Regions from separate parts of the Homo sapiens genome. Here region 2 is linked to region 1. Evidence: fine-mapped expression QTL. A gene starts in region 1. The other region holds a variant in brackets. All regions are shown on one strand. Distances are from middle to middle.

What was found. PIP is the estimated chance that this variant, and not a neighbour inherited with it, causes the effect.
Region 2: its variant is the best candidate, but not a certain one, in a credible set for the expression of CLTB in whole blood (INTERVAL, PIP 0.85).

The regions. Positions count from the first base shown.
Region 1 is chr5:176,411,368-176,420,267 of GRCh38, reverse strand. CLTB (clathrin light chain B) reads left to right here and starts at 3,729. Exons shown (of 6, transcript NM_007097.5): 1 at 3,729-4,091. The coding sequence starts at 3,905. It also overlaps a transcript of ARL10 not described here. RefSeq lists silencers at 3,437-3,896, 3,937-4,036, 4,147-4,226.
Region 2 is chr5:176,155,996-176,164,895 of GRCh38, reverse strand. It overlaps the pseudogene CEP192P1. Among named protein-coding and RNA genes, the nearest start is that of SIMC1, 78 kb to the left of the region's middle. RefSeq lists a silencer at 3,570-3,810. The variant T/C (reference allele first, on the strand shown) is at 5,300.

The DNA.
Region 1 (8,900 bases):
GGGTGTGACGGCCTTTGTGCAAGATTGTGGTTTCAGACAATCCTTGTTTTTTGTTGTTGTTGTTGTTGGGTTTTTTTTTTTTTCTTGAGACGGAGTTTTGCTCTTGTTGCCCAGGCTGGAGTACAATGGGGCAATCTCGGCTCACTGCAACCTCTGCCTCCCAGGTTCAAGCAATTCTTCTGCCTTAGCCTCCTGAGTAGCTGGGATTACAGGTGTGTGCCACCACACCCAGCTAATTTTGTATTTTTAGTAGAGACGGGGTTTCATCATGTTAGGTTGGTCTTGAACTCCAGACCTCAGGTGATCCGCCCATCTCAGCATCCCAAAGTGTTGGGATTACAGGCATGAGCCACCGTGCCCAGCCTCAGACAGTCCTTGTAATATTTTCTATCATAGGCATGTGTGCATGGGAGCCCCTCATTTATGGCCTCCTGAGTCCATTTTGCTAGGGTTTGGCATAAGTGACTCCAGTTTGATTTGGACAACTTGTGCAGAAGGATGCCCACTTTTGGTATTTCTATTCAACATAGTACTGGAAGTCCTAGCCAGAGAAATTAGGCAAGAAAAAGAAATAAAAGCAACCCAGATTGGAAAGTAAGAAGTATCTCTGTTTGCAGATGCTATTTATTTATTTAGAGACAGGGTCTCACTCTCATTGCCCAGGCTGGAGCGCAGTGGTGTGATTGTTATAGGACAGGGGTCCCAATCCAGACCCCAAGAGAGGGTTCTTGGATCTCACGCAAGAAAGAATTCAGGGTGAGTCCTTGGTGCAAAGCGAAAACAAGTTTATTAAGAAAGTAAAGGAGGGGCCGGGCACGGTGGCTCACGCCTGTAATCCCAGCACTTTGGCAGGCCGAGGTGGACAGATCATGAAGTCAAGAGATCGAGACCATCCTGGCTAACAGGGTGAAACCCCGTCTCTACTAAAAATACAAAAAAAAAAAAAATTAGCTGAGCATGGTGGCAGGCTCCTGTAGTCCCAGCTACTTGGGAGGCTGAGGCAGGAGAATGGCGTGAACCCGGGAGGTGGAGCTTGCAGTGAGCCGAGATCGCACCACTGCACTCCAGCCTGGGCAACAGAGCGAGACTCCACCTCAAAAAAAGAAAAAGAAAGTAAAGGAATAGAAGAATGGCTACTCCATAGACAGAGCAGCCCCAAGGACTGCTGGTTGCATATTTTCATGGCCATTTCTTGATGAAATGCTAAACAAGGGGTGGATTATTCGTGCCTTCCCTTTTTAGACCGTATAGGGTAACTTCCTGATGTTGCCATGGCATTTGTAAACTGTCCTGGCACTGGTGGGAGTGAGGATGACCAGAGGTCACTCTTGTCACCATTTTGGTTTTGGTGGGTTTTGGCTGGCTCCTTTACTGCAACCTGGTTTTTGTTGTTGTTGTTTGTTGGTTTGTTTGTTTTTTGAGACTGAGTCTTGCACTGTCACCCAGGCTGGAGTGCAGTGGTGAGATCTCGGCTCACTGTAACCTCCGCCTCCCGGGTTCAAGCAATTCTCCTGCCTCAGCCTCCCAAGTAGCTGGGATTACAGGCACCTGCCACCATGCCCAGCTAATTTTTTGTATTTTTAGTAGAGACGGGGTTTCACTATATTGACCAGGCTGGTCGCAAACTCCTGACCTCACAATCCGCCCACCTTGGCCTCCCAAAGTGCTGGGATTACAGGCGTGGGCCACCTTGCCCAACACTGCAAACTGTGTTATCAGCAAGGTCTTTATGACTTGTATTTTGTGCTGACCTCCTATCTCATCCTGTGATTTAGAATGCCCTAACCGTCTGGGAATGCAGCCCAGTAGGTTTCAGCCTCATTTTACCCAGATCCTGTTTACGACGGACTTGCTCTGATTCACACACCTCTGACACAATCATAGCTCACTGCAACCTTGACTTCCCGGGCTCAGGTGATTCCCTCACCTCGGCCTCCTGAGTAACTGGGACTACGGGCACCATACCACCATGTCTGGCTAATTTTTTGTAGTTTTAGTAGTGATGGGGTTTTGCCACGTTGTCCAGACTGGTCTCAAACTCCTGGGCTCAATCTATCCACCCACTTCCACCTCCCAAAGTGCTGGGATTACAGGTATGAGCCATGGCACCTGGCTAATAAGCTCTTATCTGCAGAAAACCCTAAATATTCCACACACAAAAAATGTTAGAGCTAATAAATGAATTCAGCAAAGCAGCAGGATACAAAGCCAATGCACAAAAATCAGTTAAATTTCTATGCATTAACAATACGCAATCAAAAAAGAAGATAAAACTTCCACTTACAATAACATCAAAAAGGCCAGGTGTGTTGGCTCATGCCTGTAATCCCAGCTCTTTGGAAGTCTGAGGATGAGAGGATCACTTGAGCCCAGGAGTTGAAGCTGTAGTGAACTATAATCGTACCACTACACTCTAGCCTGGGCAAGAGTAAGATCCTGTCTCAAAACAAAAAACAAACAAACAACAACAACAAAACCATGCAAATGGACAGCAATAAATAAATACATTAATTTAATTAAATAAAACAATAAAAACCCCCCCAAAAACAGTAACATCAAAAGGTGCTCAAGTTGTTACCAATTAAACTGAAAGTTCCAGCTGGGCTTGGTAGCTCACACATGTAATCCCAGTGTTTTGGGAGACCAAGGCAGGAGGATCCCCTGAGGCCAGCAGTTCAAGACCAGCCCAGTTAATATAGCGAGGCCCTGTCTCTAAATAAAAAAATTAAAAAGAAAAAAAAAAAAACACCTGGAAGGTCCCTTCACCCCAACTCCACTTCCACCCCCAACTTGGCGGCACATCTTTCCTTTCGCTCTTCCAGTCCATATTTCATAGTTGCCTTTCAAGTCCCACATTAGAAATAGCAGACAGCCCAAATCCCATGGTGTTTCTTTGCATCGTCTCCCTATACCCCGTGTTTAAATGTCACAGCGCCTCACACACAGTGCTTTGACAGGCCATTTGCCATCTGTTGGTCTCACCGGATTGTAATCTCCGCATGGCCATGGCTGGATTTTATAAAACGTTGCTGTCCTGGTGCTTGGCAAAGCGCAGGCAGGGAGGAGGCATTCAGAGCCTGTTCACAGAGGGCAGCGGGCAGCGTGGAGAGTGGTAGGCTGCCTGGGTAAACCAGGTCTGCCTTTCTCAGGCTGGTTCATACCTAAAGGACATTTAAGGGGCCTAGCTGGCCATCCAAACTCTGGTCGTATGAACTGAAGCCTCCTCAAGGGAGATACACAAAAAAATACACAAAACAACACGGCCTAGTGGGAAAGGACCTGGACTTGCATGAAAAGGTGCGGGGCAGCCTTTCCCAGCCTCAATTTTCCTCTTCTTACAGAGGCGGAGGCTCATAGAATGAGGTGCATGACATCCCAACCTAGGAGAAGAAACTTCTGCAGAATGAATCAGGAGCCAGGTCTGCGCTCCCGAGGCCAGAGGTGGCCTCCTGTCGCAGCTCTGTGCACGGTACGGCCACTCTGTGCCCTGCGTTTCGCCTCCAGGCCGGGCGGGAGCAGTGCCTAGCCCAGGTGTCCTCGACGCGAGCAGCTGGGCGCCGCTGCGGAGGGAGGGAAGCGCCGCGCCGGTCCCGGGCCCAGCGCTGCGCCCAGTCCTGAGGCGCCCTCCTGCGGCCGCTGCTCGGCGACCTCCCGGCCCTGCGGCCCCGCCCCCGCGGTGACGTCACCGCATTCCGGCTCCGCTCCTCCCGCCGCGGCGCCCGCACCGCAGTGACAGCCAGCCGGGCCCGGTGGCGGAGAGGAAGTGCGGTCCGCGCCAAGCCCGTCCCCGCCGACGCCGGCTCCCCCGCGGCTCGGGTGACAGCGTCGCGGCCGCCGGACGCAGCGCGGGGCAGGCGCGGGCAGAGCCGAGCGCAGCGGAGGCTCCGGCGGAGGCGCGGGGAAAATGGCTGATGACTTTGGCTTCTTCTCGTCGTCGGAGAGCGGTGCCCCGGAGGCGGCGGAGGAGGACCCGGCGGCCGCCTTCCTGGCCCAGCAGGAGAGCGAGATTGCAGGCATAGAGAACGACGAGGGCTTCGGGGCACCTGCCGGCAGCCATGCGGCCCCCGCGCAGCCGGGCCCCACGAGTGGGGGTGAGTCAGCGCGGGGCCTGGAGAGGGGCTCAGGGCGCGCACCCGGGGGACCCCGGCCGGGGCCCAGGGGCACAGGGAAGAGAGCCTGCTCTAGGCCACCCGGGGCAGGAGCTGGGAGACGTGGGGAAGAATCTTCTTGGAGATCTCCATGTAGGACTTCCGAGCTGGGGATGAGGCCTCGCCTGGGGCTGTGGATCTGGTGACTCCCGGGACAGGAATTCGGTCATGACATTTCATCCCCAGGCCAGCTTCCCCACTGCCCGGCTCTGGAATCCAACCCCACCTCAGTTTTGAGAGTCCCTCCTGAGCCTCCTAATAGCCTGGGTGTCCCAGGCTCCCAGCTAAGTGTGCAGGTGTGGGCAGAACACAGCCCTCCTGGCCCCTCAGGCTTAGCTCTCTCCTGCAGCTGGGAAAAAAGAGGATCCTGGGTGCTCCAGGAACTCACTAACCTTCCCCGGTGACCGCCTGGCATTCGGCAGTCGCTGGGCTAAGCGCCTTGGTTACATTTAATCACTTCATACACGTGATTGAACCCATTTCAGAGATGGTAAAACTGAGGCTCAAGGGAGTATGCTATTGAAATAACTAGTAAGTGGCAGATCAAGAATTTAAACCTGTTTCTTTTTCTTTTACATATATATTTTTTCTTTTCCTTTTTTTGAGATGGGGTCTCGCTATGTTGCCCAGACTGGTCTTGAGCTCCTGGGCTCAAGCAATCCTCCCACCTCTGCCTCCTAAAGTGTTGGGATTACAGGTGTGAGTCACCACACCTGGCCGTGAATTTAAACCTGTTCCTGTCGGACTTGAAGCCCTCTCCACCTGACCACACTGCCTACCAAGTGTCTGGCTCTGAGTTAGACACCGGAGTGTGGGCCACAAAGAGGCATCAGTCAGATGCGGTAGGGCCCTTCAGGGTTTTGTAGTTGTCGACTTAATGGTTTTCCAAAGGTGGTCCGGGGCTATTATGATTTACTGTGATTGGCTTCAGACCTCAGTGTTCAGGGCCTAGTCCCTGTGAAATCATCTTTATCAATGATGTTTCTGCCCTGGTTCTGGCTAGCAAGAATGATTTTGTAAAATATTTAGTAAAAAAGTAGATATCACCTTCATGGGTACATCCAAAACAGGTTTTACTTCCTGTTGATGTCATTTTGGAAAGGTTTATGGGCCTGTTGTAGTAAGTGCTAACATATATACATATAGACATATTTTGGTTAATGATGTTTACAAGGCTCTTCACAGTCATGTTTGTATCCATTCAACGTTTACTGAGCACCTACTGTGTGTCAGGACGCTGGGGATACAGAAATGAATAAGACAGTTCCTGTGGCTGAGGAGTTTGAAGCAACTCTGTATCTCCTTGATATGAGAAATGTAACCAGGCTTTTGTAACATGCAAGAAACCGGTGGCCCAGAGAATCTGAGTATCTTGCCCAGAGTCACACAGCCAGGAATGACCAATCTAGGACTTGATCCCACGCCTCCCAACTCTGGGCTCCATGCTCTTTCAAATGCTGTGGAGCCTGGGCAACATGGTGAAACCCCATCTCTACAAAACATACAAAAATTAGCCAGGCATGGTGGCATGTAGCTGTAGTTGTAGTTCCAGCTGCTCGGGAAGGCTGAGGCAGGAGCATAGCTTGAGCCCGGGAGGTGTAGGTAGGTCGCCGTGTGCTGTGATCACGTCTCTGTACTCCAGCCTGGGCAGCAGAGTGAGACCCTGTCTCAAAAAAAAAAAAAAAAAGATTCTATAGCAGTCACCTCCCTGGCAGGAGATAGGATGTGGGGTGAGAAGCATGGGGTCTTTTGCCACCTATCTGAGACAGCAATGGAGGGCTTCTGAAGTGGAAGCTTCCAGCACCTCAATACAGAATCTGCCGTGTCCCAGGGAATTCCTAAGAAATGCCTGCCCCAGTTAATGCACCAGTATTCACTGGACCACACCTCTGTGAGACCACCCTTTTCCTCAGTCTGGCTCACTGGGGCCTGTTGGGGTCGGGGTGCAGGGAAGAGGAGGGAGGCCTTGTGGGGAGGTCCTGCTGAGGGGAGCCATTGTGAGAACCTCAGGAGAGAAAAGATGGGATTCAGGCTGAGGGCAGCCAGATGCCTGAGGGAGCTGAGCAGGTTGTGGCCTCTCCCAGGATGGTGGGGCTCCAGGGACTTACAGTCTGGATGGCAAGTTCTGTCCTTGGCAGGGGTGGGGCACAAATTGGCCTCAGACCAGAGGTGACAGGGAGAGAAACAATGACACGCTCGCTTCTTCCAGGGAGGTGCCGGGGATACAGCCTTCTGAGGGTCTCCCAGGCGCATACCTGCTGACTCTGCAAAGGCTCAGCTGCCCTCCTTAGTTGGATCGGGGAGCAGGGAGGTGTTGAGGGATGGCGGCTCAGTGGATGGCCAGATGGGCTAGAATTGATCTGACCTTCTCAGCCTATGCAGTGCTGAACAGGTAATCTTCCCCTGACCAGGGATGTGTGCCAGGAGCCTGGATGGGGCAGAGAAAAAGCGCCCTGGCCTGCTGAGAGCTGGGCAAAAGCTGGCTTAGCAGCGGCCGCCAGTCAGTACCTCTGAGGCACCTTCTCTTAGATGTTGGGGTCCTCAGATTAGCAATCTCTGTGCTGACACTGGGCTCAGTTGCCCCTGGGGAAAGAGGTATCTGGTGTAGGCCTGTGCTGGAGCCACAGGGAGCCCCTCCTCTCTGGCTGGATCTGTGGCCCTGGGTGATCTGGATGATGGACACTTTGTTTCCATTCATCAGCCTTGGGTAGGTTTCCATTTTCACACCCAGTTTTCTGAGCACCAGGCCTGGCTCTGACTTGCCTGTCAGTTCTGGGCAAGCCCATTTCCCCCGCTGGGCCTCGTAAGCTCACAGGAATGTTCTGGACCCTCTCTGCCCTTGTTCCAAAATGGGTCAGGCAGCTGAGGGAAGCAAACCCTCAGGGGTTTATCCCTGGGACGTGTCTCTGTCTCAGTCCTGTTCTGCTGGCCTGTGAGTGTGGACTCCCGGTGGTAGATGGGCAGTGGGTGGGTGGAGAGCACTGTGGGAACAGGTACTTGGAATGCTGTGTAGGTGTGTGTGGACTCTTAAGGAGGCCGAAACTGCATGTCCAGAGGAACACTCTCGAGGCTGAGGCAGAGAGACTTTCTGAAGGTCAGGGTAGACCCCAGGCAGCTGTGTGTAGATGTGGGGTCTGAGACTGGGGTTGGTCAGGGCGGAGTAGGGTGGTGCAAATTCTCGAGAAGGCCAAATGTACAGACCGGCATCACAGGGAATAGACCCTGGTAACGTGAGGCCCTGCTAGAGGAGACACCCCAGCAGAAGAAGCCCCTTTGCAGAAGATGCTGCCACTGAAATGCTATTGGTCCCACTGTGATTTAGGGGCCAGGACACCCATGCAGGAGAAGCCTTATCTGAAGGAATGGGAGTGACAGCTGACAGAGTTGGTTGGAATCAATCACTGGTTGACTCTGAAAGCAAAGTCAATTATGATTTATGTCACCCGGGGATTATTTCCATGGGATTAAGTACCCTTCCCTTGAGTCCCCAGGCCAAACACACTGTCGCTGCTCACAGCCCTGTCTGGCTGGTGAAGGGCTATTTGTCCATCTGCCTATTAACCTCATGTGGCCTCCATGGCTTTTTGCTAGGAGGCACAGCAGTTTCTGAGAGCCTTGCAGATAACAGCAGGCCTCAAAACAACAATTCAACTTCCATTTAGCCAATAGTTACTGCTCACCCATTCCGTGCTGGAGCCCTGAGGAGCTGAATAGGACACGGAGCCTGGTAAGGGGGTACACACGGACCCTGGGGGTCATGAGTAATTGCACAAGAGGGTGCAGGATACTGTATGATATCCTGGGATACCCCGGAAGTGAGACCTTCCGTAAGTGCCTAGGGAAGTAAAGGAAGCAGAGGAGGGCTTCCCAGAGGAGGTGACTTATGAGCTGGACCTTGGAGAATAAATGGAGCCAAAAAAGCATTCTTTTTTTTTTTTTTTTTTTGAGATGAGTCTCACTCTGTCGCCCAGGCTGGAGTGCAGTGGCGGGATCTCGGCTCACTGCAAGCTCCGCCTCCCGGGTTCACACCATTCTCCTGCCTCAGCCTCCCGAGTGGCTGGGACTACAGGCGCCTGCCACCACGCCTGGCTAATTTTTTGTATTTTTAGTAGAGACGGGGTTTCACCGTGTTAGCCAGGATGGTCTCGATCTCCTGACTTCGTGATCTGCCCACCTCAGCCTCCCAAAGTGCTGGGATTACAGGCATAAGCCACCACGCCCGGCCCAAAAAAGCATTCTTTAGAGAGGGAAGCAGGAAGAAAGCATGGGGATGAGGGTGGTGTGTTTGGAGAAGGAGGAAACCAGAATTTAGGGTTTGTGGGATGGGCTGGTGGGAAGTGAGTCAGGAATGGGCAGGGCCAGATTGTAGAGATCCTCATGTTCCAGGGTTAGATGTACTTATCTGGCAAATATTTATTGAGTCCTTGTTATGTTCCAGGGACTGTTGTAGGTGGGCCTCATCATGGATGAAACCAAGTCCACACCCTCATGGAGGGTCTGTTTGTTGGGGGAAGACAGATAATAAACACATACACAAATAAACACAGCAGGCTGTAGTAAGTGCGCTTAATACTGCAGGAGGAATAGGAAGGGGTGCCCAAGGGGTGGATGGGGGTGTGGTCAGGGAGGCCTTTAATTAGGCAGCATTTGAGCAGAAGCTGAAGGGAGTGAGGGAGCAGCCTTCCAGGCAGAGGGAACAGCACCTGCAAAGTCCCCAAGGCAGGAGTAGGCGCTATAGGCCACTGTGGTCCA
Region 2 (8,900 bases), 260 kb after region 1:
CAGCCTGGGCAACATAGCAGGACCCTGTCTCTACAAAAAATTTAAAAACTAGCTGGATGTGGTACTGCATGCCTGTATTCCTAGCTACTTGGGAGGCTGAGGCAGAAGGATCACTTGAGCCCAGGAGTTGGAGGCTACAGAAAGCTATGATCTAAGCACAGCACTCCAGAGCAATACCCTGTCTTTAGAAAAAAAAAAGAAAAAGCCAAACAAACAAACAACAAAAAAAGAAAGTGTTAAATCCATAAGATGTCCGCGTATGTAGGAGCCTCCCAGCTCTCTGATCCTGAAGCCGTGAAGGGAGGCAGGTAGTGTGGAGGCCAGTGCAGCCTCACCTCTGGCAGCTGAGGATCAGGGCAGAATGTGGAATGAACATCCACATCAAAGCTTGATTGCTTGGGTGGCATAAAAATCTCTACCTGTAGGTCAGCCTTAAAATACATTACTTTATAAAGTGATGATGATTCCCCTAATTTGAGGCCATGCAGTTTGTGTTAACTGAGAGAACCATATTGTGTCCTTGATTTAATAAGTAGCCTGCCTTCCTTATTGTATGACCTCTACAGAACTTAGAAATACAAGCTACCATACTAAGCAAATTTCTTTCTCACTTTCTGTCTTGATAAATTTGCCTACTCTGGGTAACCTCATGTGAGGGGAATCATACAACATTTGGCTTTCCTATTCTGGCTTATTTCATTTAGCACGATGTCTTCAAGGTCTACTCATGTTGTAGCATATGTCAAAATGTCATTTTTTATGGTTGAATAATATTCCATTGTATATATGACTTTTTTTCTCTCTTCATCTGTCAATGGGCAGTTGGATGTTTTGAGTCTTCTGGCTTTTGAGTATAATGCTGCTGTGAATATTGGTGTACAAATACCTGTGCAAGTCCCTGCTTTCAGTTTATTTAAATATATATGCAGAGGTGAAATTGCTGGGTCCTGTGGTAGCTCTATGCTTAATGTTTTGAGGAACTGCCACGCTGTTTTCTCCAGCAGCTGCACCAGTTTCCATCCACCAGCAAAACGGCAGGGTTCCAACTTCTCCACATCCTAAATGACACTTTTACCCCCTTCTTTTTATTATCGTTATCCCAATAGGTGTGAGGTGGTGGTACATCACTGTGGTTTGGATTTGCATTTCCCTGATGACTAGTGATGTTGAGCATCTTTTCATGTAATTATTGGCCATTTGTATGACTTCCTTGGGGAGCTGTTCATTTAAGTCCTTTGCTCAGTTTTTAATTGAGTTGTTTGGCTTTTTGTTGTTGAATTGTAGAGTTCTTTATGTCATCTGGATATTAATTCCTTAACAGATATATGATTTATAAATATTTCATTCTGTAGGTTGTCTTTCACTTTCTTGATATTAGTCTTTCATGTGCGAAAATTTTTAATTACGATATAGTGTTATTATCTATGTTTTCTTTTGCTCCCTGTGCTTTTGTTGTCATATCCACGAAGTTGTGAAATTCAACGTTGTAAAGGATTAAGCCTTCATCAACACACAGGATGGATGCCTTTCCATTTGTTTAGGTTTTCTTTCTTTTAACAGTGTTTTGTAGTTTTCAGCATGTCTTTTGCTTCCTTGACTAAACTTATTCCGAAGTACTTAATTTTTTTAGATGCTATTATAAATGGAATCACTTTCTTAATTTATATTTTAGATTGTTTATTATTGGTGTTTAGAAACGCCTGATTTCTGTGTATCGATCTTGTGCCCTTCAATGTTGAATTTATTTACTAGCTCCAGTAGCTCTCTTGTGGATTCTTTGGGATTTTATGCATATAGGATGATGTAATCTGCAGAGAGAGATACTTTTACAACTCTTTCCAATTTGCATGCCTTTTATTTCTTTTCCTTCTAATCGCTGTCTGTGATTTCCAGTACACTATTCAGTAGCAGCAATTTAAGCAGGCATCATTTCTTGTTCCTAATCTTATAGGGATAACTTTCCATCTTTATCATTCAGTATGATGTTAGCTGTAGATTAAAACAAATACCCTTTATCATGTTGAGGAATTTCCCTTCTATTTCTAGTTTTCTGAGAGTTTCTATTATAAAAAGGTGTTGGATTTTGTCAAATGCCTTTTTTTTTTTGCATTGTTTAAGGTGATCATATAGTTTTATTAATGTGATTTATTACATTTATTGGCTTTCTTATGTTGAACCACATTGTCATTCCTGGGATACAGCCCAGGAATGGTGTATCCTGGTTATGGTGAATACTTTTTTTTTACATGCTGTTTGATTTTTGAATACCAAAAAAAAAAAAAAGAAAAAGAAAAAAGAAAGAAAAGAAATGCAGCTCCTTTAAGTCTCCTAAAGGCTGCTTCAGCCAGTGGGTTTGAAACAGTGATGGGCAGCTTCTGTGTACCTATCCCGGGCAATCAGAAGCAGCAATTTGCAGTCAGGACATAGAACCCTGATAAAGCGGAGGCAAGGTTCTATTGCCAAATGTGGCTCCAGCCATCTGCCCTAGAAACACAGATTACTTTCTCTACACTTGTTGGCCGTGAGCCTGGGGCTGGGTAGCCACTGTTATGCTGAAGCCTGAAGTTGGTCCACATTAACTGCACTTTACCAGCTAAGCTTTTTCCCTGGTAGCTGGAAGTGTTCAAAGAGACCTCAGAGTTCTAACAGTTACTCCAGAGAGTCTTTTTTCAGTACACTATGGTTGTTGACTAGGTGGAGACACACATTTCTGGCACTTTCTACTTTGCCATCTTTCCTAATGTCACTTCTTGTTATCTTTTCATTTCTAATGTTATAGGCAAATAATCAGAATTTGGTTTGGAAAATCTAACTAATTTAAATGTTTAAGGTTATCTATATAATATATATATTTCATGGATCTAAGAAGATGAACTAAATGCGTTTTTGAGGGGTTTTAGCTTTACATGGTTTTAGTTCAGCATTTTATATGATTCCATTTTCTCTTTTTTAGCATATGAGACATAATTCTTTGTTTCCACTTTTTTAGTGGTTGCTCTAGTATTTGCAACATACATCAATAATTAATCCATGCTCACTTTCAAATGACATTATCCTGCTTCCACAGTAGTTTGAGTACCTCATAGTAACAAAAGATTTCTAATTCCTAAGCATAATGTGCTTAATATAACTGTGTTTTTCACCTTTTTCTAAATTGTAACTTTCTCTTGCTAGCTGGACACCATATATTAAGTAAAAAGAACAGCTTTCAACATGTTGCGGTAAAACGTTGGAGAGGGGAAGCATTCCACAGTTCTGGGATGTGGTCCCAGTCTTTCAGTGAGCCTGTGCCTTTGGACTGTGCACTTCACAAGTGTGTCTCGGTCTTTCTCCCTCTCAGGTTGAACAGGGTGGCTAGAGGGAAATGGAGTTGGGTATTTCCCTTCCTCTAGGCTAGTTAGGCTCAGCTAAAACCCCAGCAGGTTAGGCTCTGGTTAGTCAGTTTTCCTGAGGACTGACCTAATTAAGAACAAAGTGCCATGTCATATTTCAAAGTGGCCCCTTTCCCCCTCCCTGCTGGAAGTCCAGAGGGATTTTTCTCCAATATTTGCTGTGAGAACCTGGTCATGTTCCTGGAGATAAAACTCACAAAAGCATAGGGGCCCACCTATGACTGGGCCCCCTGGAGTTTTTTGTTTTGTTTTGTTTTGTTTTGTTTTGTGTTTTTTAGTAGAGACAGGGTTTCACCGTATTAGCCAGGGTGGTCTCGATCTCCTGACCTCGTGATCTGCCCGCCTCGGCCTCCCAAAGTGCTGGGATTACAGGCGTGAGCCACCGCGCCCGGCCTGGAGTTTTTAAGCCTCAGACTTTTCCACACTGAGCGTGCAGCAGTTCCTCGATTGCATTTCCGGCTTTCCTACGCTGGCTGTGGCTACTGTGGGGGCCTCTGCTTGGGAGTTTATGCTCCCATATGTTATAATTCTCTGCATTCATCTATCTCTCTCTCCAGCTTTGGAGGCGGTGGTTTGTGCCGTGACTTCACTTCTCTCAGAGATCTCAGAAGAATTGTTGACTTGTCAGTTTGTTCATCTTTTTACTTGTTGTTGGGATGGAGTGTTGACTTCCAAGCTCTTGATGTGCAGAACTGGAAGCTAGAAGTTACAACTGCATTTTTCATTCAAGATTATTTCAAGTTGCTTTGCGGGCGAGACAGCTGGTTTTTCACATTGTGCTTCTTTTTCATCTTTGCAAGTGTCGTATATGAAAAGTAGTTGTCTAGTTTTACATGGTGTTTCTTTGTCATCTTTGTCCTTTTTCTATTGGGGTATTCATATCTTAACTATCAGTTTTGTGAGGTTTCTATGTTATGGAAATATATTGATCTTTATGCATTTCAGCCTTTAATGTATGTCAGTTTCCTAGGCTTGCCAGAACAAATTACCACAGTCATGCTGGCCTAAAACAACAGAAATTTATTCCCTCAGGTTTCTGGAAGCCAAAAGTTTGAAATCAAGATATTGACAGGGTGGTGCTCCCTCCAAAGGCTCTAGAGGAAAATCCCCCCTGGCTGTCTCAGCTTCTGGTGGCTCCTGACATTCCTTGGCTTGTAGCAGCATCATTCCATTCTTGTCTTTCTGTTCACTTGGCCTTGATGTCTCTGTCTGAAAATTTTCCTTCTTTTCTCTGATAAGGACATTGGTCATTGTGCTTAAGATCCACCCCAAATCCAGGAAGACCTCATCTGAAGATTCTTAAGTAAATTGCATCTGCAAACACCTTGTTCTAGAATAATAATATGACAATTTATAGTTACCAGGCTCAGGACTTGAATGTATCTTTTTGGAGGGACACAGTTCAGACCATTAGAGTATTATACTTAGATGTTATCTACTGAAGACTATAAGCTAATTAATCTGTATCTTCTTCTAATACTTTCACATCTCAATCTTTACGTCAGCATGCTTTATTTAGCATTTTAATGTTGTAACTTCCGGAAGCTGAGCCTTATCAGGTCGTTCCCTTTCTTGCTCATCTTACAGCAGAAGGGGCTGCTGTTAATAGGTTTTATTGGTCCTTGAGACCACGGTGACAGCCAAATGTCCACAAGCAGTACTGAAGACATCTGAGCCCCTTTTCAGCAGTTACAATTTTAGGAGAGACTAAGACGTGCCACTTGGAAAGATGTGATGGAGAGCGTAATTTTAAGGCACTGGCTAAATTTGCTGTGTCTGCTACAAATTTTATTGGACTGCTCAGGGGCATTTGTAGTATCCACTATTTTACTCCTACGAAGAGACACTAATATCTGTGTTTTCAGGGGCCGTTACTCGTATTAACTTTAGGAGGTTGGTCACACTAA[T/C]GGGCTGACCACCCTTGTAGAGACATTGGTGGGTCATGATAAAAGTTAAGCTGACATTTCTATCATTCTCTCATGAAACGGATACACAAGACCCACTTTGGTATCTGAACCTGTTGATATCTGGGGCCCAGGGGTTGGGAGCCCTGATGTAATGGAACCTGAGGCCACTTTCAGCATCTGAATCCGTCGATGTGTGTGTTTTTCATGACCACATCATAGCTTTTGGTTTGGTCAGCTGCTTATGTTTGGTTCACATGTAGTCTGGAATACAGTCAAGAGTGTATATTGTTCCTTCAAATAATACAACTTTTATATCAACTGTATAATTTTCCCATAAATTTTAGTATGAGTTATGAAACATAAAACTTACTATTGCTCTGTTACTGATTCTCTCTTAAAGGAAAATGCAAGAAAGTATGTTCCGGTGAAGACCCTCAGCTCTGTTCATTTTCATGATGCAAATGCCCACAAAGGTGGTTTTGACCTGACTGACCCTGTGCAAGGAGGCACAGTCTCCTCACCAGCATAAGCACGTGGCATCAGATGCGGAGACAGTTTTGGACGTGGATGGATGTTTACACACTGAGACTCCTTCAGTGTCCCTTCAAGAAAATGTGGACACAATGTCTCTGAAGCCTGTTAGTGACCATAGAATTAATTTCACTAATACCTTTCGGTCACCGACTCCTGAAAAGAGAACACGTGAATATCATGAGTCCGTTGAAAAAAGACAGTAAGTGGGCTTGAAAAAACAGAATAAAAGAAACACAAGTTTTCATTTTGATCAAGGTTAAAAGGATGCAGTTAAGGAACAGCTGCCTTCCACCTGAATGAGCCACTAGATGCTAAAACACTTTTGCTTGTCTGTAAACATGTGAATACAATTAGGTTTATATTACTTTGAAGAAACTATTGTGTTATCTAAATTTGTAACGTCACATTTGAGAGACTCAGTGATTAAAAACAGCTATTTTCACTGTAGTTAAATATGCCTTTGATTCTGATTTTCAAACAAAAAGAAAATATACTTTTAGTAAAAATGTGTCTCAGAGGAACACTATTACAGTTTTTCCACTTTTATTAAGTGGTTCTCTGCTCACTCCCTTTTTCCCCACCAGAATTGCGGAGGACTCAGGTATTCCTATTAACAGATAAGTTATTCCTTTCCTAACCTCTTTTAAGATATACAAGCACATAGATTCCAAGTACAAACCTTTCAAAGTAGGAAAATGTCCTTCTCAATATATTCCCGTGTTCTCACGGCTTCGATACCCAGGGAATCTTATTTAAATTGGTTCACTGGAGGCAGTACCTACAGGGTATTTATAACAAACATGAAAAATATGTCGCTAGTTATCAGGGATGCAATTTTTCAACAAGTTCTTTGATTTGCTTCATGTCCTTTCACTTACACCTAACTTGATGAAAAAATCCAAGAACATCTAAAACGAATCATGCCCAAATTGAAAGGCCGTATTTGTCCTATCTGAACTAACATTTATGTTGCAGTAGTTCTGTTGCACTTTCATACTGTAATAGGATGTTAAAATCAAATTCTTCCTCTCACTTTTGACTGAGGCTTTTAGATAGATTCCAACCACTTCCAATAGGTGCTAACCACTCCCAAATTCCAAGCTTGTGGTATAAACTTTAAAAGTACATTTAGGTTTTCTCCCGAGTTCCTGACACAGAGCTTCACAAACCCTAGGAATTTCCTGAATAAGAGTGTCTTTCATTACTCATACAAACCCCTTTGGACTATACCTGAATTTATGCCAGCAAGATGGCTCATGGATGTGGGGCGGGGAGATGGGCTGGATGGCTTCAGGATAAAGGCTGTTTGCCAGAAAAACCAATCATGTAATTCGGGGGTTGGAATTTTCACCCTCCCAATCTCTGGGGAGAGGAAGGGGGCTAGAATTGAGCCCAGTCACATGGCCAATGATTTAAGCAATTACACCTATAAAATGAAACCTAGATAAAAACTCAGCAATAAGGCTTGGAGAGCTTCCTGGTTGGTGAATCTATTGATGTGCTAGACAGACAGACCAGTTGGAGAGGGCACAGAAGCTCTGTACCCTGGACCCCTCCAGACCTTGCTGCCCTGAGTATCTCTTCACCTGGCTCTTCATTTGTATCCTTTATAACAAACTGTCATTGTAACTATAAAAAAAGAGAAACAGATATTTGTACATTTTGGATAGGGTGTATATTCATGTGGGCTGTGTCAGTCTTTTAGGTTGGAATATTTAAGTGTTTTATAGTTCAGACAAAATTTCAAATATACTAGTATAGGGAGAATTGCTCAGAAATCGTACCTTTCATCAGAGTTCTAGTGGAAATGTACCTTTCTATGTCTTAGCATTTTTTTCTTTATTTCTCAGTCTCAATTATTGACTTGTTTTCATGAGCACAGCTGGCTTGTCTGCCATAAAAGAGATATTTTCATTTGGGGAAATGGATTTTTCTTTTTCCAACACATTTTGGGCAGATTTCAGTGCTGTTGGTAATTAAGGCAGTCATCTAGATAAAACAATTATGTGAGAATGTCGTATCATTTTAGTTGTTACATGTGTCAATGGATAGTTTTGGAATTCTGTTTTTTAGAAATGAATCTCACACAGAATGTGGTCTATGGAAATGAAGAGGGCAGAGGGGTCATGGACCTTGCCTGTCACACATCTTTTACGAGCAAACAAAATGTGATGAGATGACTGAAGACTTGAGATCTGGTTGTAAGTATATGATGAGCACATTTGTTGTATGGTTTTCATTGTTTCTGATGGTGTTTCTGAGGTTGCCCTACTCAGCCACATCAGATCCCTTTGGGACTATCATTGTATTCTGGAAGCTCTTCAGTTACTTTCATAGGAACCAAGGTTTGAGTGAGCTGGTCTTCATCACGGCAGAAGCCGAACCATTTGTTGAAGCAAAGCCAATGAGTGAGAAGAGCAGTCTTCTACTTCTGTGTAGACCCCATAGTATTGCAGGGCTGGAAGGGACTTTAGGCTTTGCTTGTCCACCTTAAAAATTCTGTCCTGAGCAAAAGAAATGTTCTGGTAAATGAGTCATTATAAACAGCAGCCCATTTTAGAGTAAAGGCTAAGAAGTGTGATAGAAGTGATGGAAGAAAAGTGACAAAAAAGATAAATGAAACCTGAAGGGATAAGAGCATGAAAGGAAGCAGTTAGGCTGCTGATCAGCATAATCTTGACAGTGAAAGTACAACCTGTCTTAGGTCTGCAGAACGGCGGGTCATGGCGTTTTGAGCTTTAGCCTGTGAAGATGCTGTGCCACCAACCGCAGGGCCTGGGCTCCTCTATAACTGGAAGGAGCCACAGTGCTCCTTGGCCTGCCAAGCCCAGCCTTATTGTGAATAGGCTCAGAAGGGGCCATAGGAGAAATTATTCTACCCACCGCTAGTACTAGGCTCTCCCAAATGTCCAGTGCTGTGGAATGACCGCGATAAGTCATGCGTTATTAGAGCCACATGCATTTAGACACAGGAAAGGGACGGGTCCACATGAGAGTTAACATCTTTGGCTCTTCAAGCACAGGCAGCAGCAGGGACAGAGGAAGGGCGGGGCCCTGCGAGCCGGCT